Homo sapiens: one gene and its partners. The protein of the gene in region 2 interacts with the protein of the main gene of each other region in a pairwise test. Each region holds a gene or a part of one and is shown on either strand. Other genes may lie near its edges.

What was found.
Region 1: the proteins of COL26A1 (region 2) and IQUB interact in binary tests that used the Homo sapiens proteins (3 or more experiments, as listed by UniProt).
Region 3: the proteins of COL26A1 (region 2) and ANXA8 interact in binary tests that used the Homo sapiens proteins (3 or more experiments, as listed by UniProt).
Region 4: the proteins of COL26A1 (region 2) and GABPB1 interact in binary tests that used the Homo sapiens proteins (3 or more experiments, as listed by UniProt).

Annotation. Positions count from the first base shown.
Region 1 is NC_000007.14:123,454,562-123,461,595, forward strand, and holds part of IQUB (IQ motif and ubiquitin-like domain-containing protein), read right to left. Parts: coding exon 6,796-7,034; intron 3,006-6,795; coding exon 2,820-3,005; intron 2,716-2,819; coding exon of another isoform or gene 2,632-2,715; exon of another isoform or gene 1-2,631. UniProt on the Homo sapiens protein: Adapter protein that anchors the radial spoke 1 (RS1) complex to the A microtubule of outer doublet microtubules in axonemes. The triple radial spokes (RS1, RS2 and RS3) are required to modulate beating of the sperm flagellum.
Region 2 is NC_000007.14:101,554,843-101,559,526, reverse strand, and holds the end of COL26A1 (collagen alpha-1(XXVI) chain isoform 1 precursor), read right to left. Parts: intron 3,741-4,684; coding exon 3,656-3,740; intron 2,158-3,655; coding exon 1,997-2,157; 3' UTR 503-1,996; downstream 1-502.
Region 3 is NC_000010.11:47,474,106-47,481,139, forward strand, and holds part of ANXA8 (annexin A8), read right to left. Parts: intron 5,784-7,034; coding exon 5,693-5,783; intron 4,637-5,692; coding exon of another isoform or gene 4,523-4,636; coding exon 4,428-4,522; exon of another isoform or gene 3,138-4,427; intron 3,090-3,137; coding exon 2,976-3,089; exon of another isoform or gene 2,975-2,975; intron 2,218-2,974; coding exon 2,127-2,217; intron 1,999-2,126; coding exon of another isoform or gene 1,961-1,998; exon of another isoform or gene 1,486-1,960; intron 1,468-1,485; coding exon 1,388-1,467; intron 900-1,387; coding exon 840-899; intron 294-839; coding exon 200-293; intron 1-199. UniProt on the Homo sapiens protein: This protein is an anticoagulant protein that acts as an indirect inhibitor of the thromboplastin-specific complex, which is involved in the blood coagulation cascade.
Region 4 is NC_000015.10:50,296,199-50,303,232, forward strand, and holds part of GABPB1 (GA-binding protein subunit beta-1 isoform beta 2), read right to left. Parts: intron 6,926-7,034; coding exon 6,731-6,925; intron 5,171-6,730; coding exon 5,059-5,170; coding exon of another isoform or gene 5,023-5,058; intron 4,705-5,022; coding exon 4,591-4,704; intron 1-4,590.

The DNA of each region.
Region 1 (7,034 bases), about 22 Mb from region 2:
GTGGACATCAAGAGACCTTTTTTCCCATTGAAATAAGGTCCATTCTCTTGAAATAGCCATGTGATGGTTTTAAACTATGTTCACAAATTCTTTGGGTGTACAAATAGTTCTAAGAATATTACAGAAAGGTCCCATATACCCCACACCCACATTTTCCTGAATGTGTCTCAATCTGGGTTTGTCCTGTGTTTTCTTCATTATTATTAGACTGAAGGGATGGGTTTTGGGGAGGAAGACCACAGGGGTGAAGTGCCCTTCTCCTCACATCATATCAAGGGTACACACCATCAGCATGACAGCACTGCTGCTGTTAATCTTGATTACCTGGCTGAGGTAGTGTTTGTCAAGTTTCTCTACTGTAAAGGTCCTCCCCTTCCATCCATAATATAGTCTTTGGAAAGGAGTTATTATGTACAGCCCACATTTAAAGGGTAGAGAGTTATTCTCCATCTCCTTAAGAGTGGAGAGTATCTACATAAATTATTTGGAATTCTACATGGGAGATTTGTCTATTTGCCTCCCTTTATTTATTCATTCAGTCGTTTTTTAAATTTTTTAAATTGATAATAATTGTACATATTTACGGGGTACATAGTGATGGGATGATACATATATCATGATCAGAGTAATTAGCATATTCATCTCAAACATTTATCATTTCTTTGTGCTGGGAACATTCGATATGCTGCGTCTAGCTATTTGAAACCATATATTGTAATTAACTATAGACAACCTACAGTGCCACAGAACAGTACTAGAACTCACTCCTCCCATCTAGCTATAATTTTTGTATCCTTAACAAATCTCTCCCTGTTCCCTCAACCTCTGAGACCTTTACTTTCTACATTACATTTTTTATTCTGTTCAGATTCTAAGCCAATAATATATTGCTTTAAAATTAAAAATAAAATGCATCAAAAATTTTTAAAGTGCTTTCATAGTTACTACCTAAGTTTATTCATGCCAAAAAAAACTATGCAGAAAGCTTTAAATAATGGCCTACTCAAAGCTTCCCTATGATGAGATACCATTATCTCTTTTTTATAGACGAGAAAGCTGGGTCATTGAGACATTCACAAATTTGTCCAATTTCTCCCAGCTCATGAATGGTAAAGCTAGAATTCAGAGCCAGAGCTGCTTTTATCCTCTTTACTGATTCCACTTATTTAGCTAATCTTTCTAAAAATTTATGAAGCAAAGAGGGAAGGTTTTAATGTAAAGTTGTCAGTGACAGAGATTTGAGTTAACTGGGTCAGGATTACTGATTTTAAGTCCATGATTGTTCCTACTTTGGCCAGTGTGCACACAAGGAGAGATCAATCTGCTCCACTTAAAGTTCACATTAACGAAAGTGTTTTTCCACGTTTCCTATACCTGTTTCATATTAACTTGCAAGTATTTTTTTAACTTCTTAAGAAAGCAAATATCTCTGAACATTAAGAAAATTCTGAAAATGCTCCATCTTTCTGCAAGATATAAACTACTCTTTAACTGGGCTGAAAGTTAATAGTTAAAAGATTGTATCAGCCCAAAACCATAAAAAAGGCAAATGTTTTTCCAGTTTGTCTGCTTGCAAATCTTGGTGCCCTTTACAGAAATTCGATAAGACTGGCATTCTAAATTAGAAATGCATGTGAATAGAACATTTAATTTGATACTGCAGTAATTTGATTAAATGCACAAAGGGAGTTGTGTGGATTAATTGAAGAAGCACTGGAATATCAGCTTTGGGAATGAACTTCAATCTCATCATGGGTCCTAGATGAAATGATATTGCTAGTATTGACTATGCTTCCTGTGATTAAATATTTATGAGGCAGCTTAGTTTACTAAATATAACATTTAATACAGCTTCAACTTATTGCTACCTTTTCTTTCAATCCCTAGAGTGAAATTTTTCTTAGCCTGGCTTCTTAAAACTAAAAAAATATTTAAAAACTAAAACTTTAGCTAGTTTCTTATCTTTATATTCATCACCCCTTGTTCCACTGAAAAAAAACAAACAGGGAATCACACTATTTTAAACGACTACTGCATTTTGTCATTTCTTTACTTTCCTTTAGCTGACACCTTGTGTGGAATTAAAGAATGCAGAGAATCAGTATTAACTCTCGGGATCCTGGACCTAGTGTAAATGGAGCTCTCTACGAACTCTTCAGGAGTCCCTCAACTTACCCATCAAAATGTTTTACAGATTGCATCATGTAAGTTACTAAAATTACAGTAAATGGCATTTAATGTTTACAGTGCTTGCTCCACTCCCAGCAAGTTGGAAGCAAATGAAAAATGGAGCATCAGAACTACACCCCATCAGTATGATTGCTATTTAGAGCACAAAATTATGAACAAAATTTGAGAGTTGGGTGTTTTTAAGCAGACTCATGATAATTAATCAAAGAAGGACAGATTCTGGGTTCCATAATACCTATCTGGTGGTAATGCACATTTATTCATTCAACAAATACTTATAAACTCCATTCTGTGACAGGCAGTATTGTAGGTATTAGAGAAATAGATGTAAATAAGCCAAACAAAATCACTGCCTTCATGGAATTTACCGTGGAATGTGCTTAAACTTACTATTAGGAGAGACTGGTATGATGTTTAGGACTTGTAATATGTTCAAATCTCTTATATATACCTTTTATTTAATCTGTGCCATATATGCCATCCATAAATTTTTTTGTTGTTAATCCATAAGTTCTGTTTCTTAATCTGATGGAAGTATTTAAGCATGGAATATATTAGAAGGCAGTCCAGTTATCGCTAATAATTCCAATGATTAAATTAACTTCCCAAATAAAATTCAACTTTCTTACCTCTTCAATACTTGTTAGCTTGAGATGAGCAGCTGCTTCATCTTTGGTAAGAAGAATGCAGTTCCAGGGGGACCACTCCAGGGATTTATTCCATCTGACCATGACCAGATCACTGAGATTGTCGCAAGCACTGAGGACTGACTGGGACGCCCAGATGTTCTCTGTCAGGTACTGAATGTCTTGTAGCTGCATGTCAAAGCAAGTTTTAAAAACAATGTAGTTTAAATTTGTTTAAGATTATTATATTACTTGAGCAAATAATTAAATTATAGAGTATTTTTAAGTGAATTATTATTCACTAGGTTTCAATGACACATAGCCCCTTATTTTTCACTAAACTTCTGTTCATTTTGCCTAAACTACATTATCAGTCTCACAGTTGCGTCCCCATCTCTAAACCAGAGTAAGCAGTATAAATTCATTTCAGTATGCTAATTTTACCTGAATATAATCTTAATAATACTATAATGTTACCATAATAAACATATGGTATTGAATGATCTTTAAAATTCATTAGTAAGTACCATCTTAATTTCAGGGCCATTGTAGGGACCTTTTAAAACCTTTTACTGCCATTTTACAAATGAGGAAGCTGAGATTTTTTTTTTTTAATATGGAACACTTCACAAGTTTGCATGTCATCCTTGTCCAAGGGCCATGCTAATCTTCTCTATATGGTTCCAATTTCAGTATATGGGCTGCTGAAGCAAACACAGGAAGTTGAGATTTAATAAAGATAAGTAATTCACTTAGTGTTAATTAAAAGACTTGGTTGTTTTAATCAAAAAGAGGGGTAATGAAATAGCTGTTTAAAACTTTTTAAAAAACGTAAATCTTATCAGCTAAAACTCTTGGAATGACTTTTTATCATGGGGTCTGCATTATAAATTTAGAATTGCCAGAGACGGACAAACTCAACAAAGTATAAGCATGTAAAAAGAATATTTTTTAAAAAAGCTTCTGTGAAAAAGTGTGAGAGCAGAAATATTTTCTGTAAAATGAGTACACAAAACCTAAACAATCTGCCAAAGTAAAAAACAAAAAGAACCTGTCATCATCAGCTACAACAGTATTTCATAAATTGGTAATTCAATATATTAAGCTCAACTAATGCATTCTAGCTTTTACTTAATGCTAAAAAAGACAATACTCTGTACACAGCTGCTATGAAAAATAAATTTATAGACCTTTAAAATTCAATGTTTTATATATTTTACTTACATTCAAAATGCATCTTGTTTACATTTTTGTTTTTAATTTAGTTGCTCAACTGTACTAATAATTTTGAAATTGTATCATACAGAATAACGTGTTTATTTGCATGTAAATGTCAAATGTGCACATAAGTGTGGTTGACAGTCTCTAAGAGCTTTCTACCTTTCAAGTAGTCATTGTACTTGAAATTTTTGCAGTAACAGAGCAATACTATTGCCTATTATATTAGGCAGTATTTGTATGCATTACAGATAAACGAGGTGACTAGTACAACACTCAAATCTCTTGTCTAAGCAGAATGTTTACTTTTTATATATATTAACTTTCACCTTTTCATTTTACATGGCATCATGTTCACATTTAACATATGCTAATCTTTGCTGTTGTCCACAAGATTTACTATTTATGAGAATGTTCAAACATTCAAATTATGCCTCAAATACTATTACTGAAATAAATATTAATCAAAACTACACCAATTACAAGGGGGGGGAAGCTACTGGACACTCATATTTGTCTGCTAATCCTAGACATTGGAAAAGTAATAGACCAAAACCCTACATAGATACGGTACTGAAATTAAATCACATCTAATGGAGATTATCCTTATCTGAAAGGTTACAATGCTCCCCTAGAATTTTTTCATTCAATATGTGTAATGGTTGATTTTACATCAACTTGATGATGCCACCGGATACCCAGATATTTGGTCAAACGGTATTCTGGTGTTTATGTGAGGGTAGTTTTGGATGAGATTAACATTTAAGTAAGTCAGTAGACTGAGTAAAGCAGAGTGTCTTCCATAATGTGAGTGGGCTTTATCCAATCAGTTGAAGGCCTGAATAGAACAAAAAGTTCACCCTGTCCCCAAGTAAGGAAGACTGTTTCTGCCTAATGGCCATTGAATTGAGACACTGGCTCCTCCTGGCTCTATAGCAGCCTGCTGGTCATCAGACTTGAACTGGGCCATCAGCTGTTTAGGTTTTAGACTTACCAGCCTCCACAATTATGTGAGCAAATTCCTTGTAACAAATCTCCTTATATGTATATATATATAACATATATGTATAACATTTTCTATTGGTTCTGTTTCTCAGGAGAAATCTGACTAATACAACATGGAATATTGAGCCAGCACTTCTTGGTGACTTACATTAAAGCCCTAGTACATCTAAGATTCTCTACAAGGAAATATACATCTGTCATGTCAATAATTCCTGAATAAAAGTAGCAAATAAGAATTTAAGCTGAAATAAACATCAAATTTATTAACAAAATATTCATTCTATTGGACAAAATATGTAATCATTTTAATTTGTGCTTTTCAAACTGTGGGTTGCTACCTCTTGGGTGATACCAAAGTTTTCCAAATGGAAATCAGAATAAGTAGACTGAGATTGAATAGAAAATATCAGAGTACATCCATAGGGGTAAAGATAAACACTATTTTGGAAACTTTTATTTCTGAGGCAGAACAGCATGTGTTTACATGTACGGATGCTGGGAATCAGACTGCCTAGTTTTCAATCCTGGTGCTGGTACTTAGTAGCGTAAACTTGGACAAGTTAGTTAACCACTCAGTGCTTCCCTTTCCTCACCTGCAGAATGGAAATAATGCCTATTTTGATAGGATTTTTGTGCTGATTAACTCAATAAAGTGTGTAAAGCCATATAGGTACTGAGTATTGAGAATTATCATGCATGCCTATATCAGGTTGTCATAAAAATACATTTTTACTATAGATTGAGATTTAAAAGTTTGAAAGCTATGGATTTAGAAGAATTTTTTAACAAAGCACATCACATTTGGTATCTTTTTTTTAATCTCTATAAAGTTTTCTATTCATAGTAGTGCCTACTTTCCTATTTGGTATTAAATACAATTTAGTTCATTTTAATTAGTAACTAATTTACAGAAAATTTGCCCTTATTTGACAGTCTGTGAACACAAATATCATTAATGAGGTCAATTGTGCTCTATAATATACTTTTATTAATAAGTGGCTAATGTTGGGTAGCCATATCAACAACAAGTAAGTCCTTCTGTTTTCTCACTTGCTTACCTAAGTCCAAACAGTGTCAGGAATTTGTTTTTATTTTGTAGAGACACAGACTATCCTCTGGCCTAAACCCAATAGAAGACATGGAATAACCAAAGAGACCGAAGTAGTGGTTAAGTTAGGAATTCAGGTCAGAATTCCTGATCTCACAGGCTCCACCCTCTCACAGAGCTAGAAGTTCTTACGAGAAGCAGATTACGTAGGGTCAATGATCCAATGCAATGATTCATCCAAAAGAACTCTGGCCAGAAACTTTCCAGTTGTGTGGTATCATATCAACACTTTACATAGACAAGTATCAAAGCCTTTCCCTAAGGTTTTTTTTTTTTTTTACTTTCTATAAGCCTTAGCTTTCACTTTTGGTGTTATTTACCATTATGGTCACATTTGGTTTACACTAATTATTACTGTTATTCGTAAACACTAGTATGTGTATATGTAACATCAGTTTCTGTAAAAGTCATTCATTCATTCAACAAATATTGAGGGCCTTAAATAAAAACTTGGTACTGTATTAGGTTATAGAGGTATAATGGTGAGCAGGAGGGAAAAAAAGCATACTCCTGCCCTCACAGAGCTTACAGTCTAGTGGAATAGAGAGTCATTAAACAATCACACACACACACACAAACATACATAAGATTGCAAGATAGCCTCCTTGACAAGCTTCAGCTATAATTGGCACCCCTTATTGACCATACCTGCATCAAGAAAGCAATTTTAGAATCATCTTCATAATCAGCTTCTGTATAGTAGAGCTGTTGAAGTAAACATTTGTACTTCAAAAATGATTCTCGTTTTTGAGCCTCATTCTGAAGGTTAATGCAGTTACGACACCGGTATATGCGGCGTGAGGTGGATGATACAGAAAATTCTGTAGAAGGCAAATAAAGCTGGCAACTGTGGCAAAAGTAAATCTTCTTATAAAATTTCAATGGGT
Region 2 (4,684 bases):
ACCATGGCAACACTCAGGAGCCACTGCCCTTTTCCATGGCAAAGACCTGATGACCCGGAAATAACCACCCTTTCCCTAGAAATTTCTGCATAAACCAGCCCTTAATCTGCATGCAATTAAAAGTAGGTATAAATATGGTGCAGAACTGCCCTGAGCTGCTATTCTCTGCCTGGGGAGAAGCCCTGCTCTGCACGAGCAGTCATGGAGCTGTAGTCCTGCCCCTCCAATAAAGCTGTTTCTCTTGCCTCCAGCTTGCCCTTGAATTCTTTGCTGGGTGAAGCCAAGAGCCCTTGCAGGTTAAGCCCCAATCCGGGGCTTGCCTATCGTGTGTCACTCCCAGCCCCCTCCCTGGAGGTCCTGAGGGCAGAGCTGGACCTCCCTGCCACAGAGGCCCTGTGGTCACCCCGGGCCTGGCTGGAGCTGCTCACAGCTTCCCTGGCACCTGGCCGGTAAGATGCAGACCAGCCTCCTGCAGAGCTGTCACCACACAAACAGACCCACAGTGGGGAGAGCACCTTTATTGTCACATATAATAATAACGCTACAGGCTGGTGGTCCCGCCCGCCTCTGACCACCCCTCCATGAAGACAGAGACTGCCTCTCCAGACCTGCCTCAAGGGCCAGAAGAAGATCCCAGGGCCCAGAGGGACCAGGCCACAGCCAAACAGGAGTACCAAGAGCACTGGAGACAGTCACTCCTGCTGTGAAGACAGAGTGCCCCAGGGTGGCGCCAGCACCTTCAATTCTCTGAGTTTGCTGCCGTGGCTGTGTCCCAGGTCCCAGCCCAGCAAGAGAGGAACACCAGGGCTGAGCTGATCACGGAGACCCTGGCCCCAGAGGCCTTGAGGGCTCCAGTCAGAGCTGTTCTGGGCTGCTAGGGACCTGGTGCCTGCCATGGAGCCTGCCAGGCCCCCAACTCTGGAAGGTGGGAGGCAGGAGCATCTCTTCCCAGCAGGCCTGGGACTCTGTTTCCCTCTCTGCAGCTTGCAAAGGGGACACTGGGCTTGCTGTGTCATGCAAAAGTAGCAAACCTATAGAGTCCACTGAGAGACAAACTCGTGGGGCAGAGGCTGCAAGTCCCACCTCTGATAGACATGCCCATGAAATGCTGCCTCCCCTGGCTCAGGGATGGGATGGACCCAGAGAGAGCGGGTGGGCTCAGCAAGACTGGGAGGCAGTGGCCAGGGATGCCTATCTGGTTTGGTGGACACTTGCACCCCCAATGCTTCTCTCTCAAGGTCCTCAAGTCCGTATGGCTGGCAGTGATTTATTCAGGGTCTCCCTGGCCTCTGAGAGCTGCAGTCCAGGCTGCTCCCCCAGCCAGTGGGGAAGGGGGATGAGGAAGGGAAGCCCCAGGCCCTGCAGGACCCTGCCTACCCCCTCAGGCTGGCTGGCCCAGCCTCCCCGCAGCCCTGCCTGCCTTAAGGAGCCGTTCTGGCCCTGCGCCCTCCCTGTCTGAGTTTTCTCTCGAAGAGGGGAAGCTGGCAGGGTCGAGAGAACATGGCTTCAGGAACTGAGGGTCCTGGGTTCAAATCCTGCCCCTGCCACCCGTGATCTGGTGGCCAAGAGAGGGTTATTTCTACCGTCTGAGCCTCGGTCCCCTTGTGAAGTGGGGATAATAAGCTTACCTCCTAAGGGTTAAATAATGAGACAACGTAACGAAAGTTCCCTGGACAGGGCCAGTTACAGCAGGGACTCAATAAATGATGGGTATTAGGATTATTCTCATTCCCAGCACCCAGCCCACCCAGACCCCGTCTCCAGCCGGGAGTGGGGGTAGGGGAGGGGACAGGCCAGAGGAGGGCTCTGATGAGGGTGTTGGCCCCTCCAGACCCTGCCCCTGGAGACATTATCTGTCCCCAAAGCCCCCCATGTCCTCACAATCATCCATGCCTGGAGCCCAGTTCCCCTGGGGGCATCTTTAGGAAACAGCGGCGGCTCAGGCCTCTGGGGCTGGGTCTCTAGCCAGGACAGGGTGTCCTGGAGCAGTGGGCTCTCACTTCCTGCTGCTGGCCTGGTCCACGCTCTTCTGTCCAGGGTCGGGCCCAAGCAGGGCAGCAAGGACCCCATCGGGTTGGGCGCCACCCCTCTTCATCTTGAGGTTGGCTCTCAGGGCAGCATCCTGGCCAGAACCTCCCTCTGGGGAGGCCAGGGGATCTGGAAGGAGAGCAGGAGGGTGGACTCGAGGTAGAGCCTTAGGAACACTTGGGGGTACATTTGATCATGATATGTGGCCACGGAGAGATGCTCTTGCCCAGCGTGGAGAAGCAAGGCAGCAGCAGGCTTTCAGCCCCTTATGCATTCATTCATTCATGGATCCATGCATCCATCCATTCATTCACTCATTCACCCATCCACCTGTCCATTGACCCATTCATCCATCTGTGTATCCACCCATTCATCCATTCACCCATTCATCCACCCACTCAGTCACTCATTTATCTATGCATCTATCCATTCATTCACTCATTTACCTGCCCGTCCATCCATCCATCCATCCATCCATCCATCCATCCATCCATCCATCCATCCACCCATCCATCCACTCACTTATCCACCCACCCACCTATCCACTCATTGATTCATCTATGCATCTATCCATCCATCCATCCATCCATCCATCCATCCATCCACTCAGTCATTCATTTATCTATGCATCTATCCATTCATTCACTCATTTACCCATCCATCTATCATCCATCCATCCATCCATTCACTCACTTATTCACCCACCTACCTGTCCACTCACCCGCCCATCCACCCATTCATTCATTCATCCATGCATCTATTCACTCATTTACCCACCCACCTGCCCACTTATCCATCCACTCATTTATCCACCCACCTGTTCACTCATCCATCATCCATCCATCCATCCATTCACTCATTCACCCACCCACCTGTCCACTCATCCATCCATCCATCCATTTATCCATCTATCCATCCACCCATTCATTTATTCATCCATGCATCTACCCATCCACTCACTCATCCACCTATCCACCTGTCCATTCAACAATTCATTCATTCATTCATTCATCTATCTATGCATCCACCCATGCATACATTCATCCAGGCAACCAGCCATTCGTTCACTCACTCACTCACCCACCCACCTGTCCATTCACCTATTCATTCATCCATTCATTTTCCAGCAAATGCTGATGGGCCTCTACTCCAGGCCCTGCAGAGGTATCATTCACTGTTCTGCACAAGGGACTCCCAGAGGGTCACAGAAACCCCAGCATGGAATGGAAGCCTCCCCTATGTCACCATAGGGACAAAGAGGAGGGTTCAGAGAAGGCTTCACAGAGGCCGAGATCTTTGAGCAGGTCCCGAAGTGGCAGTCAGTGTTCACCAGGCAGAGGCATGGCCCGAGCAAAGGCATGGAGGTGGGAGGGGCCTCAACATGGCTGGGCAGGGCTCTGCCCACCATGGCTATACTAGGGAGGGGCTGGGAAACTGGGCTGATGCACTTGGAAGTCTGTCAAGGGCAGCAGGGAGCCACTGAGGGTCCTTGAGCAGGGGAGGGGGAGGGTCAGACTAGGGGCAAGGGAGGGAGACCAGAGACCCTAGGCAGCAGCCATGAGGGCAGCATTGGGAGAGGAAGGAGGGGAGAGAGATTCCCAGCCCGCTGATCCTGGTCACTGCTCACCGTGGATCCCAATCATGTGCTCCAGGATGAGGACTCGCTCTGCCAGGATCTTCAGGGCCTCTCTCAGCTGCTGCACCCCCTCGCCCTGGCGGGGAGGAAACAGGCAGGGTCAGGGCCGGCCATGAGGAAGGGGTCAGGGCCATCCTGATACAGTGACAGTGTATGTGTCCTCAAAGCCCCCCACCCCTGCCTCTTCCCACCCGACACCCTCACCACTGCAAATAAGCATAGACTGAACATCATCAACTATGTGCCAGACAGGGCTTCAAACCCTGTTCACAGACAAAGAGCTTGAAACACAGAGAGGGCAGGCAACCTCCCCACGGCCACACAGCCTGGCAAAGCGGCCGATCCAGACTGCAGATCCACACCTGTCAGCCTCCAGCCTGAGCTTTTCCTTCCACCATAGCTGCCTGTCAGCTTCCCCCACATGTCCTGAAAATACCCTAACCAGGACAGAGCACCTATCCCAGGGCCCGAAGGTAGGAAGTTCTTTGCTTGTTTCCTTCCTTGAATGCCCAAGAGCTCGCCACCAAACAGCAGGCAAGGGGCAGGGTAGGTGTGGCCATGCCAGGCAAGAAAGACAGCAGAGAAAGCCACCATTTCAAAGTGCAGGCAGGCAGGCTGGCGTGATGGCAGAGTCTGTATTTCAAGGGCCCGGTCTGCACACAAGCAGAGGACCTTGTGCACAGAGACACCTGAGTCAGCCAAGACAGGGTGCTGACTTATTGAGAAGGCAGGTGTCGAGGCCACTCTGAAAAGTGATGATGAGGAGACAAAGCCACTGTCCCCATCCTGCCCAGCCCTGGGAGTTGGCAGCAGAATGGGTGCCTTTTGCTGGTGTAACATGACAGATCTGTCTTATGTTCAGATTAATTTAGCTTAAAATGAAACAAAAGGAAACCAAAAAGCATCCTACTGGGTTATAGGAGAAAGGTCTGCCCACCAGGGGACCAAAGACAATGGGAAGTTGAGCCAATTACAGGGTCTGGGACAGGGATGTCAGTGTCGTGTCCCCAACTCAGAGAA
Region 3 (7,034 bases), on a different chromosome or scaffold from region 2:
CGTGATGCCCCTCAGTGTCTCGGATCAGAGATCGCACATCAATTTGCCGCCCTGACCTCCCACTGGTGGCTGGGGAAACAGTCCTGGGCTCCCTGGCTCTCTCCCTAACTCTAGACTTGACAAGGCAGAAGCACGAGGGAGAGGCTCATGGCCAGGACACCCCCTGTGGCCCCGGCCCCAGCCCCTCCCTCCCTGGTACCTCTCAGCAGGTGAGTGGCACTGCGCGTGCACAGGATGGTGATGAATTTCATCTCATCAGTCCCACGAATCTTCTCGCCTGCCGCATACAGATCCTAGCATTGGGACACCCACAATAAGCCAGTGAGGGAGACCAGGGAGGTGAGGGACTGAGCCCCAGAGTCCCAGAGCTGTGGCCATGGCCTGGCCCTGTCCACTCTGCCAGGCCAGCATGCTCCCCTGCTTGGTCGTCTCTGACAGGGAGCTCCCCTTTCTCTAGCAGCTCTGGCTTAGAATATTTTCTCTATCCTGGGCCACAAGCTGCTCTAGGAACTGCCTGGTCCCCAGACTTCCCTCTGCCAGCAGGCAGACCTACAGAGACCCGGACACCTGTGTCCAGCACTGGGGCCTAGCGCCCCCGGGTTCATGGGCTGTTCCTGCCAGGACAGAGCTTTAGTGCTCCCCCACCCCCAAGTCACACTCCTTCCTCCCGAGTCTCCCAACACCCTCACTCTCCTCCCCAGACACCACAGGACAAAGGCCTATAGGGAGCTGAGCTGGGTGGGTCCCAGCCCAGTGTCAGAGAAAGCCCCCGTGGGCAGAGGAGCCGGAGTCCAGATGGCAGGGGGTGGGGCCACATGGCCGGCTGGGCGCAGCCTCACCTGTGCGTCTTGGAGGGCCAGTCCTGGGTCCACAAAGCTGCTCACATCATCCCTGCTGCCCTAGGAACAGAGGAGGTGGCTCTGTAAGGCAGGCCAGCTGACCAGAGCATTAAGGGCACAGGGGGGATCCTGGGCTTGGAGGGCAGGCATGGCTCTGCTGCTCTTTGGCTGTGGAAACTTCGACAAGCCAGTTATTCTCTTCAGCCCTTGGTTTCCTCATTTGTACAATGGGGGTGGTAAGGACTGCCTCATAAGGCTTGGCGGATTCAGTGAGCTAAGGTAAGCAAAGTGCCTGGCATGAGGCCTGCACGAAGGACCTGCTCTCCTCCCGCTTCCAGGATGCTCTCACATGGCTGAGTAAGGACAGGTGTGGGGGCTCTGCAGTTGGGACCCTCTAACCATGCTGAGACACACCCAATGAGCCCTGGCTGCTGGGCTATCCCATGCCCCTACCCTGACTCTTGTGGCGCTATTCAAGGGCTGCTCCCTGGGGTGGAGCTGTTGGGACTCCCAAACCAAGGCACTCCCAAGAGCCTAGGCTGTGACACCTGCAGGAGGCACACCAGGATCCTCTCCAGGTAGCCACTTGTGTCTGCTTGGATGTCCTCCTCCAGGCTGGACCCATAGTCTGCAGGGAAACAGGACCATGAGGCACAAGCAGAGGCCCACAGCCTACCCGGGGCCTGCTTTCCTCCTTCCAGCCCTGTTCCCCATACTTCTCCTTATTAAAGCCTTCTAGGAAAGAAAGTCCTTGGCACAGGGCATGGATGCAATGCCCGGGTGTCCAAGTGGCTGTCGCCTGGGTGGTGCTTCACAACTAGAAGCGACATGCGTACCCAACCAAGCTCAAAGCACAAGATGGACCAGGTCAGAGAGCCAGGCTAGGGGCTGCCAACCAAGCTCCATTTCATCTCAAGGCTTGGCAAAGCCAAAGCCTCCAGGAAAACTCCCCACTAGGTACATGATGTGGAGGACTGACTGGCCTCTGCTAGCCTGGGGTCCACACCCCCTACTACCACAGTCCTCAAGGGCAGAGATTTTAGTTGGTCACAGGCCTCTCTCCCCTGTAAGAGGAGCTGGTGAGCTTACAGATCAAGTCTGAATCATGTTCAGTGTCACCATCAGGCACAGATCTTGGCATACGGTAGGTGCTCAGCACCTGTGGGTAAAAAAGTCCCCAAAGGGTCCTTTCTAGTGTGGCCCAGGTTAATTCTTGATCCTTGTTCCCTGCCAGGCTGCCAAAGCTTGTGGCCACTCCTGAGCCCCTCCATCTGTGCCACCCCTTACCTTCCTCATACGCCTTCATTATCTCCCGCAGCTGGTTCTTGGTCCGAGAGGCCAGGATCTCAATGATGACACCCTCCTTGGTTCCTAAGCCCTGTGGACAGAAACCTCTGCCTGCTGGAGTGCTCTGCCATGACCTTCTGCTCTGTCCACACCTTCTTTTCTCAAGATGCCTGAGCCTCAGGAAGGACCTCACTGCCCTGCCCCACTTGAAGTGGGAGGATGTGATGAGAAAATCACATGCTTCAGTGATGAACATTGAGGGCAAGTGCTGTGACGGGGAAGCCCTGTCTCAGCTCTCCCTCCTTAGCTGGGTGGTCTCAGACAGGCTGCTCCATGTCCTGGAGCCTAAGCATCCCGATCCATAAACAGGAATAAGAAGCCTCCCCTGCGCCAAAGATAGATTAGGGAGCGTGGGTGTAAAATGCCTGGCAGTGCCCATGCAGCAAGTGTCTTTCCAAACAAAATGACTATAGTTACTGGGTCCCCATCCTTATTAATCTGCAAAAGCAAAGAGTAGTGAGAGGTAAAGGGAAACCCAAGGGGCTGTGCCTGGGACTGTAGAGGTGGGTTTCCAATACCACTGTACACCTGAGCTCGTGAGGTTCTGAGAAGTACTGATTTTGGCTTCATCACGGCCACTCAACGTGTCAATCAGGCACCAGTGACTCCAGGTGTTGGGTGCAGTCTGAGCAGCAGGCTGCCTGCTCACTGGGCCCAGTTATGGCCCATATGGCCATTCCAAACAGTGGCTCAAGGGGAGCTCTGGGCTGTAGGTTCCCGGTCCCCGCATTGCCCCTACCCAGTCATGTGAGCACCCCTGCCACTCCCCTGCCCTGTCTGCCTGGTTACCTTCATGGCGTCATGCAGCTCCTTGGCTTCGTATCTGTATGGCGGGTACATAAGGGCCACAATGAGCCTCTCAAACTTGCCACTGAGCTCAGACTTCAAGGTCTCAGTGAGGTCCTAATGCGGGAACAGGGAAAGGTGATATTTGTCATAAGCCAGGCCCACCTGAGTGCAGGCAGCGGAGTGGTGGCTGGGTCCAGGGGCTTGGGCTGGATTCTGCGTGGGCCTTGCCACGTGCTGGCTGGGTTTCTTGGGCCAGCTCCTTAGCTTCTCTTAGCATCAGTATCTTTACCGGTTACACGGAGAGAAACGTGCTCCTGCTTCATCCCGTTGCTTAGGGGGTTGTGTGTGACTCAATTCAGCATTCAGTGCAGTGCTGGGCACATCATAAGCTCTCAGTAAAATGAAATTGGTATTGCTAGCTAGACTGCAAGCTCTGAGTATGGCATCACCATAAAATACCTGTCACTTGGCACTCAATGAATGAATGCATGCCTGAATTAAAGACTTCGTCTCACATGTGCCTCCTTCTAAGGTCACATGTTGCTACGAGGAGCCACCAGGCTACATCAGCTGATCTACAGAGCAGCAGAGAGATCAAGGGCTTTGTCAGACCTGGATTTTAATCCCCACCTTGTTGATTACAGGCTCTGGGACCTTGGGCAACTTAAAACCTCTCTGAGTGCCAGTTTCCCCAAATGTTTGAATACAAAGAATGTATCACTGTGAGGACTAAGAGAGGGAAACTGTAAAAATGCATACTGGGTTCTCCAAGAGAATATTTGAGCTGATCTTCCTTCGTTACATCTCCAAACTAATGATATGAGTCACTAGAGGCTTGAGGCAACCATGGCTGTGCACATATTTAATCCTGTGTTTACTGTGTACCCCCAAATGTCAGGCTTTGTCCTAGGGGTGGAGTGCAGGTGGGAGGAGAAACAAAGGGCCTGGCATGCTTACTCCAGGCTCTTAGAATTCCCAGGTGGCAGAAGGGACGAGGTGTGGGTGCAAGCAGCTCGACTGAGGAAAGCATGCCCACGCCCCAGAACAGAGCAAAGCCAGGCCTGCATGCCTGGGGCATGGAAAAGAGAAGGTGGTCTGGGCTCAGAGGGCAGGGCGAGATAGCCTGGGGGCAGGGAGACAGACCTCCAGTGGGGCCTGTTGGGTGCATGAGAAGGAATGCTGTGAGAGAGGAGGCAGGAAAGGAAGCAAGGAAGGCCAGCCCCCGGCCCGGGCTCTGACACCTAAAAGTAGATCTGCCAGATAAAACACAGGGCAGCCAGTTACATTTGAATTTCAATAAAGAACAATTGTTTTCATGCAAACATGTTCCATGTGCCCATGCTGCCAGTGGGCTGGCTCTAGGGGAAAGTCGTCCAGAATGGAGCTGCCTCCCAGGCTGTACCCCCAACCCCAAGGCTCACCTATCCCCACCCCCACCAGCCTTCCCCTTGCCTTGCCGAACTGAGCCTTGAAGGACTTGGCGATCTGCTGCCGCTGCGTGTTGCTTCTCTTGGTGAGCACATCGATGATAGCCTGCTCGTTGGTCCCTGCAGGGTTACAGCACAAGTGACCCTGCTGCCCCCAGGGTGACACACTGGTGAGGGCGGAGGAGGGGAAGGCGAAGGCAGCTGCTTGGTGGCTGAGCAGTTGGGACCCGACACCTGGATAGTTCCAAACCCCCAGACCATTTTCGTGGTGTAAACAAGACCCTTAGGAAATCTGCCTCCCCATTTCCCACCCCACACCCCCACAATGTTGGGGCGTGCCCAAGGCCAGCCTCACAAGATGGAATCTGAGGTCTGGGTGGCTCTGGACATCAGCCCGGGCCTTTGGAGCTTGGCCGAGTGAGATCTCTGGCCCTGCCCTCCTTTGTGTTGGTCGCAGTAGGGGAAGGTCAAGACTAAGAGTCCAACCCCTGAATCCGAGGCCTGGCCCAGCAACTGCGTGGCATTGGGCAGCCAGCCTCATTTCCCTGGGCCTCCGTTTTCTCATTTGGGAAGTGGAGATAACTTTCTGCTTCACAGAAAGCAGAGGGCATGAGAACGTTTTCTGGGCTTGTCAGGAGCGGCAGTTCTCATTAAGGCCCCTGATCCTCAGGCAGAGCCGGCTAAGGGGTCAGTCCCACCTGGGGTGAGGTCAGGGTACATGCTCTGCTCTCAGGTCAGGAGGGCTTTCTGGGCAAGCTGTTTAAATCTGGCCTCAGGCCAGCCCTCGCCCACTCACGGTAGTGCTGAGGGCAGCACTGGGCAAGTGCAGGAGATGGGAAGGGAGCCGGCTCCATGGCCATCGACATGGGGCAAGGGGGCCTTGAATCAGCCCCACAAACTCCCAACACCTCACACCCCTGGCAGCTCTGTGCCTGGCATCATAAAGCACCACCCCCTTCACACTTCATGTGACACACAAGGCCAAGAATTCTTGGGGCCACTTTACAAGTGAGAAAGCTGAGACTGATGGGAAGTCACTCACAGAGACACACAGCTCACCTCCCCACCCCCATTACCCAGGGAAGAGCAGCACCCTCCTGTCCAGTCTTGCAGGGTGGGTGCTGACCTCACTGCAGAAACAGAGGGCTGTGTGATTCTCTGGGTAGTGGAATCAGTTTCAGAGTATCATGGGACACCCCAGCTCCCCAGATGTCCCCTGGCACCCGCTTTCCAGGGCTGTGAGCGGAGGGGTCTTGAGCAGAGGTGGCAAGGCTGCCAACACCCACTCACCGATCCCCTTCATGGCTTTGTAGAGGGTCTCTGCATCAGGGTCTGGGTTGAAGTGGGAGCTGCTCTTCACTGTGACACCCTCCTGTTCAATCTGCAAGAGAACCAGGCCTGCTCAAAGCAGGCAGGGACAGGGAGGGCAGAGCAGGCTCCCAGCCCATCTGGTAGCCCGCCCTGACAGGGTGAGCCCCTTCCCTGGGCACGGAGATCTGCTCAGCCCTTGCAGGCCAGTGCTCTGCCCTTCAGCCCCTTGGCCAACAGGGTGGAGTAGCCAGAGCCAGAGCTTGTGGGGAGAAGCCACAAAACCTTTCCTGTCCCTGTCTGTGCCATCTGACTGCAGACAGCAGCCCCAGCCACACCCAGCTCCTTCCAGCATCACCCACCAGCAGCAGGAAGGGACAAACTCACCCAAAGTTAGGAGGGGAAAGAACACTGAAGCAAAGGCTTCCTGGAGCTGCATGCACCACCTTCAGAGTGTGCAGATGAGGTTGGAAGGCTGAGCATGGTTCTGCCTTTCTGAGGAATGGTTTGAGCTCAGTCTGCCCTCTTCCTGGGGAGTTGGGACTTACAGCAACTTAGAGGGCAGGGGCCCAGCTGAGCATATTGATAGTTCAGGGTGTTTGCAAGTCCACAGGCCCATGGGGCTCAGAGCGTCAGGTTTAGAAAAACCCGCACGATGCTCTGCAGATTGTGAAATAAACCAGATAACCAAGTGCCTGAGCCCTTGATTTCCAAGCCTCCAGTTCAGGGCTTGCCTGAAGGCTCTTTAAACTTGTGCCCTGCAGAATTTCTCAGATGATTAACATGGACATAAGTGTGTTTTGGGTGGAGGAATGGTAGAGAATGGAGGGATATTGGAGATAGGTATTGAATTAGAGGGAGACTCAGAGATCCTCCAGGATGAAAAAGAGTTTAGTCCCATCCAGTCTTGTCTTCCATTTACCTGTTCACTTATTCCTTCCATCACCTCCATCATCTGCCCATCTACTTTCCCACCTACGCACTTACCCATTTGACTACCACATCCATCCATCCATCCACCCACCCATCCATCTATGCACCCGCCCATCCATCCATCCATCCATCCATCCATCCATCCATCCATCCATCCATCGAAGCCCTGGGTTAGATTGTGAAAATACAGAGATTCCAATGGATGGTATATCTGTAAGTATCTTTCCTTTGAGTAAGAGGTAAGGCATCTTTCTGAACTCTTTGCTTTAATTTCAAATGTCTGGTGACAGATCTTCCTGAGTCATTTCTTAGCACCATGTTTCACAGCAGAAATTGTTAGAAATAATTCCTATGGAAATTCCATCCAGAGAGAGCCAGTGTGGTCCCAGAT
Region 4 (7,034 bases), on a different chromosome or scaffold from region 2:
ACCAGGAAAAATGTGTATTGTACCACTTAGCTAGTAAAAGAAAAGAATATGAGCAGGAACAATGAGTGTACTGATGGAGCTTACACTATATTTTGGTCAACATCATTTAAAAAGGTCAAAAAAGTAGCAGAACACTTATTTCAACAGACTACCTATTACTAGAAAAAGCTATAGAAACAGATACATCCCAAAAGTAATAGCGACGCTCTTGCTTAAAATAAGATAAAATGAAAATTACACAAATAATTCAATATTGTGTAATTCAAATATCTCAAACCAAATTATAAACGTTCTAAAAGAGCCCAGAGATCATGTGAATAAACTGCATAGGAGAGATGGTACATTATAGAGGTCACAGACATATACCTTGGGAATCAGTCAGACTGACCAAATCCTCCTTTCTCTACTTAATAGCCATATGCCCTTTGATAAAATTATTCAACCTCCACAACCTCCAATTCAACCTGTTTCATTATATATAAAATGGAGGTCCCACTAATGTATTTTCCAGATTCTAACAAGCCCTTGAAAAGATATATATAAACATTTCGAGAATCAGGATGAGTCTGACGATAGATTTTAAAGAAACTGGACAGCCAGAAATCAGAGAAATAATCTGTGGTAGATTTAGCTTTGCCTGAGTATGTGCAAATTGAGCTTTAAGTTGTTTACTCTGGTGGTAACATACTTAAACTTTAACTTAATTCTTTTTTTTTTTTTTTTTTTTTTTGAGACAGAGTCTCCCTGTGTTGCCCAGGCTGGAGCACAGTGGCACAATCTTGGCTCACTGCAACCTCCACCTCTGAGGTTCAAGCGATTCTCCTGTCTCAGCCTCCCGAGTAGCTGGGATTACAGGCATACGCCACCACATCCGGCTAATGTTTGTATTTTTAGTAGAGATGGAGTTTCACCATGTTGGCCAGGCTTGTCTTGAACTCCTGACCCCAAATGATCCACCCACCTCGGCCTCCCAAAGTGCTGGGATTACAGGTGTGAGCCACTGAGCCCACCCATTACTTCTTTTTTTTTTTTGAGATGGAGTCTTGCTCTGTCACCCAGGCTGGGGTGCAGTGGCACAATCTCGGCTCACTGCAACCTCTGCCTCCCAGGTTCAAGCCATTCTCCTGCCTCAGCCTCCCCAGTAGCTGGGATTACAGGGGCACACCACCACACCCAGCTAATTTTTGTGTTTTTAGTAGAGACAGGGTTTCAGAAACATGTTGGCCAAGCTGGTCTTGAACTCCTGACCTCGTAACCTGCCCACCTCAGCCTCCCAAAGTACTGGTATTACAGGAGTGAGCCTGCGCTCCCGGCACTTCTTTTTAAGTAAGCTTTTAAAATATCTTCAAAAAGATTCCACTATGGGCCGGGTGCAGTGGCTCACACCTGTAACCTCAGCACTCTGAGAGGCCGAGATGGACAGATCAGAAGTTCGAGGCCAGCCTGGCCAACATGGCGAAACCCCATCTCTACTAAAAATACAAAAATTGGCTGAGAGTGGTGGCGTGTGCCTGTAATCCCAGCTACTCAGGAGGCTGAGGCAGGAGAATCGCTTGAACCCAGGAGGCGGAGGCTTCAGTGAGCCAAGATCACGTCACTGCACTCCAGCCTGGGGTGACAGAGTGAGACCCTGTCTCCAAAAAAAGATTCCACTGTGATGTCATATTGAAATGAAAAATTATTGTGCTCATAGAAGATTTTAAGTCACATGCAATAAAAACTAACTGAAATTACTAATTCTCTCAGACTAGACCAAAACATTTTCAAAGGTTAAGAGAAGTTAGAGAAATTGGTGTGGCCATTTCATGGAGTCACACATTTAAATGTCAAAATTTCCAGCTGACTTAGAAGAAAAGCCGTTTTACTTTCAGATATATGTGTTTTTGTTTTCGTTTTTGTTTTTTTGTTTTTGAGACAAGGTCTTGGTCTGTCACCCACGCTGGAGTATAGTGGCGCGATCACAGCTCACTGCTACCTCTGCTTCCAAGGCTCAAGTGATCCTCCCACCTCAGCCTCCCAAGTAGCTGTGAACACAGGCACCTGCCACCATGCCCAGCTAATTTTTTCTGTAGAGACAGGATTTTGCCACGTTGTCCAGGCTGGTTTTGAACTTCTGAACTCAAGTGATCTGCCACCCTTAGCCTCCCAAAGTACTAGAATTATAGGCATGAGCCACCACACCCGGCCAGAGGTAAGTTATTTAATTAAAGAAAAGAAATTTACAAGTTTAACCAAATAGAAACCACCAATGAAATCAGTTTTCTTTGCTATGCTTCTGCAATTACATAAGTATTAAATAGATCCAGGCATAGGTTATAAAAGCAGCATGTTAGTATGATGATGCATATAACTGCTAATGGCCAAAAGTGATTCATACAAATCTTAAGACTCCCAAATATAAAGGCTTGGATTCAAACTTAGATTATAATGCTACAGAAGCTAAAGAATGGATAAATGTTATTTTCAAAAAGAGGCTGGGCACAGTGGCTCATGCCTGTAATCCTAGCACCTTGGGAGGCCGAGGAAGGCAGATCACTGAGGTGAGGAGTTCGAGACCAGCTTGGCCAACATGGTGAAACCCCGTCCCTACTAAAAATACAAAAAATAGCTGGGTGTGGTGGTGCATGCCTGTAATCCCAGCTACTGGGGAGGCTGAGGCAGGAGAACTGCTTGAACCTGGGAGATGGAGGCTGCAGTGAGCCAAAACTGTACCACTGTACTCCAGCCTGTGTGACAAAATGAGACTCCATGTCAAAAAAAAAAAAAAAGAAAGAGAAAAGAAAAGAAAAAGAGAAAAGAAAAAGGTAGCATTCCCCCAACTCCTCCAAGTCAAGAATATTACAGTAATATCCACCTTAAAGCTTTCTGGTGAGGAATAAATGAGATTATAAGTAAAATATTTATCACAGTGCCTAGCAGAGAGAGTAAGCATTTGATGAAATGTTGTTATTATTGATCAAATTTTGAAAAAACACTAATTTAAAAAATGAATGACAAATTATTCTTTGCTTTTATAAGCACTGAACCAAATATAATGGCTTAAGCTACAGAAAAATATTTTCTTGGAATTTAAAAAATTTCCTAATTAAATTTTACCGACATAATAATTACATCAAGAAGTATTTTGGTTAAGTATAAAGGTAAATCTTGTATAAACCAAATGTTCATGAATACTGTTTGTCATCATTTAACAACAGGTAACCCTTTCATTTCTTTTTGAGACAGAGTTTTGCTCTTGTTGCCCAGGCTGGAGTGCAATGGCGTGATCTCGGCTCACCGCAACCTCCACCTCCCGGGTTCAAGCCATTCTCCTGCCTCAGCCTCCCGAGTAGCTGGGATTACAGGCATGGGCCACTACGCCTGGCTAATTTTGTATTTTTAGCAGAGACGGGATTTCTCCATATTGGTCAGGCTGGTCTCGAACTCCTGACCTCAGGTGATCCACCCGCCTCAGCCTCCCAAAGTGCTGGGCTTACAGGAGCAAGCCACCGCACCCAGCCAGGTAACCCTTTAACAGTGGTTTCTGTATACTATTTCCTAGTTCTATCAGTCATTAAGATTTTATAACACTCTAGTAGAGCTGCTAAAAATTAAAATTTATGAAAAAAGTGTTTTTTGGTTTTGGGTTTTTTTTTTGAGGCAGGGTCTCATTCAGTCGCCTAGGCTGGAATGCAGTGGCATGATCTTGGCTCATGGCAACCTCTGCCTCCCAGGTTCAAGCGATCCTCTGACCTCAGCCTCCTGAGCAGCTGGGACCACAGGAGTGGACCACCACACCTGACTAATTTTTATATTTTTTGGTAGAGATAGGGTTTCACCATGTTGCCCAGGGTTCTGGGCTCAAGCAATCCACCTATCTTGGCCTCTCAAAGTGTTAGGATTACAGGTGTGAGCTACCATGCCCAGCCAAAGTGAGTTGTTTAAACAAAAAGTCACAAACTAGTAAATCAAGAGCCAAATTAGAGACAGGGACATTTTTTTCTGTGAGCCACACAAGTTTTGTTTTTCAATTAGTTACCAAGATTTAATGTTCTTTTAAAATCCAGATTCACAGCTTCCTATTAAAAAACAGAATTTGGGAATACTGGACTGATGACTATAATCAGCTAGAGTTGAGTCACAGATGCCTCCCTGCCCTTGCCCCATTCTTCAGCCGGGTGTAATCTCAATCCTGCCCACTTTAGCCTTTTATTGTCTTCCTGGCCTTTGTAAATATTTGAATCTGCAACTGTTTTTGGTTTTTTTTTTTTTTTTTTTTTTTTGAGACAGAGTCTTGCTCTATCACCCAGGCTGGAGTGCAGTGGCACAAACTCAGCTCACTGCAGCCTTCACCTCCCGGGTTCAAGCAATCCTCCTGCCTCAGCCTCCCGAGTAGCTGGGATTACAGGCCATGTGCCACCACGCCTGGCTAATTTTCTGTATTTTTAGTAGAAACAGAGTTTCACTATGTTGTCCAGGCTGGTCTCAAACTCCTGAGCTCAGGCAATCCACCCGCCTCGCCCTCCCAAAGTGCTAGGATTACAGGTGTGAGCCACGGCACCCAGCCTGAATCTGCAATTTTAATGTACACATTAGACTCGTTTTTCTAACCTGGAGTTTCTGAAGAATTGGACAATGGAGCAGATGCTTCAGCTAAGGCAGCTAATGTAGCTAATACTGATGTAGAAGAGTTTCCAAACTGAACAGCAGATACACCCGTTTCATCTGTAAGAAAAAAGAAAATAGATTTGAATTTCTAAGGAGCTTAATCCAATGCATATTTCTGATATTCTATTTATCTTACTGACTCTTAAACAAAGCTTGGATAGCATTAGCTTTTGAAAGGTAATACTGCAGTAAATTTTGTAATATCACCTTTCTTCAGATTGTTTTGTCTCATAAAAATCTTTTTGCCAGTTATACCAAAGAAAACAAAGGTGGCTGATAGAATCTTACCCTCATTCTCCAACCGTCCTTTCTTACAAGGATGAATACCTACTAAAGCATAAAATCCCAAAGCCTATCCTATATGCATCTCAATACCTGTTGCCTTGGATGAATTTTCTGAAGATACCAGACCTGTTAGGTTCACCACCCCTCCAGGTCCAATGATAAACTGTGGTGTTGCAGCATGTATTGTCACAGTGTCAGGACTCTCTGGGTTTGTGTTGATTTGGTTCTGCATAGCAATCTAGGGAAAAAATGACCACAGTGTTTTCAGAATTATAACCAGAACATATAGCACAAATTCTCCATATAATACAAACACATATAAAGGAGTATTCTCTAAGAAGAATCACATAGTACAAGTGGAAATATTTGTCTAAGGTCCACTGACAGTGTAGGGGCACATCATGGGTATATATTTATATCCCAAGTCCCCCTCTTAGGTAAAGCAGCAAAATCCTGGGAGAGGAGAAACGAGTATCTAAAAGGTTTTTAACAGAACACAGAACAACTGGACATTAAGCTGGCTGAGGTGGCAGGTGCCTGTAATCCCAGCTATTCAGGGGGCTGAGGCAGAAGGAGTGGTTAAGCCCAGGAGTTCAAGACCAGCATGGGCAACATAGTGAGACCCCCATCTCAAAAAACAAAAACAAAAACAAAACAAACAAAAAATATTTCTGCCCTGTAGCTATAGGAATTTAATTATTTCTTCTACGTTTGGCAATACATAATACCACATATATAAAGCATGTCCTTCTCAATTAATTGTTCCCCATCTTCAACTCCAACCCCCAAACTGCACTCTTAGGAGTAAAAGGAATGAAAAGAGGCATGGTAGAATTCATTTTCCTGAACATAAAACATCTTTTAAGTAACTAGTGGAAGCTCAAAGGAGTCAGATAGTCTTAGAAAAGAAGAGTTCTACTGCTGGGATTGGGAACAAACAGGCAAGAAGAGGCAGTAATTAAAGAAGATAATTTATATTATGTCATCTGGCTGAAAATAAGAGAAGTAATGTTGGTTACTAGAAAAATCTTCCCAAAAGCCAAAAACAACAGATATTTTTGAGGATGCTGAAAGATAAAAGAAACAAATCAAACTGCATCACTCACTCAAGGAATGATATTATGGTTGCTAATATATATGTTTTTTAATTTTTATAAAGTCATTTATAGTAGACTTGGAAAAACCATATAGTATCAAAATGCAACAAAAATAATAGAATAAAATGTCTAGGGCCAGGCGCAGTGGCTCACGCCTGTAATCCCAGCACTTTGGGAGGCCGAGGCAGGCAGATCGCCTGAGCTCAAGAGTTCAACACCAGCCTGGGCAACATGATGAAACACCATCTCTACTTAAAACACAAAAAATTAGCCAGGCATGGCAGCATGCACCTGTAGTCCCAGCTATTTGAGAGGCTGGGGCAGGAGAATTGCTTGAACCCAGGAGGCAGAAGTTGCAGTGAGCCAAGATCGTGCCACTACACTCCAGCCTGGGGGACAGATCAAGACTCTGGCTCAAAAAAAAAAAAAAAAAAAAAAAAAAGGTCTAAAGGGAAATTCAGAAACTTAAAAAACAGAAAGTAATCACCTTATCTAATGTTAATGAAGAGACTGGCCTTATAATCAAGAAAATGAATAGTAATAAACAAAGAGGAAGTGAAAGAGAAAAAGGCCTATCCAAAATAACTAAGTCCAAAATGAAAGGCTACAAACAATAGTTTAAATCATGCACAATATAAGAGATCCCTCTACTGATAAGGCTTCTTTTTCTTTATTTTCTTAAATTAAAAGCCAAAAGTTACCTGTAATATCTCTGCTAAATCTTCATTTCCATTGTCTATTGAAATATCAAATGCAGTTTTACAAAATTTACTTTGCGTGTGTACATCAGCACCATATTTGATTAAAAGTTCCACCACCTCTTGATGATTGTGTTCTGTGGCCCAATGGAGAGCTGTCATCTTTAACATGTCCTTTGCATTGACATCAGCACCATGCTACAAAAATATTTCAAAGAGTTTACTAAAATATGAAATATCACATAAAAAATTCCTGATATGAAATTATTAGTTCTGTGCTTTAAAGCAAGAACAAATAATGTAGTCA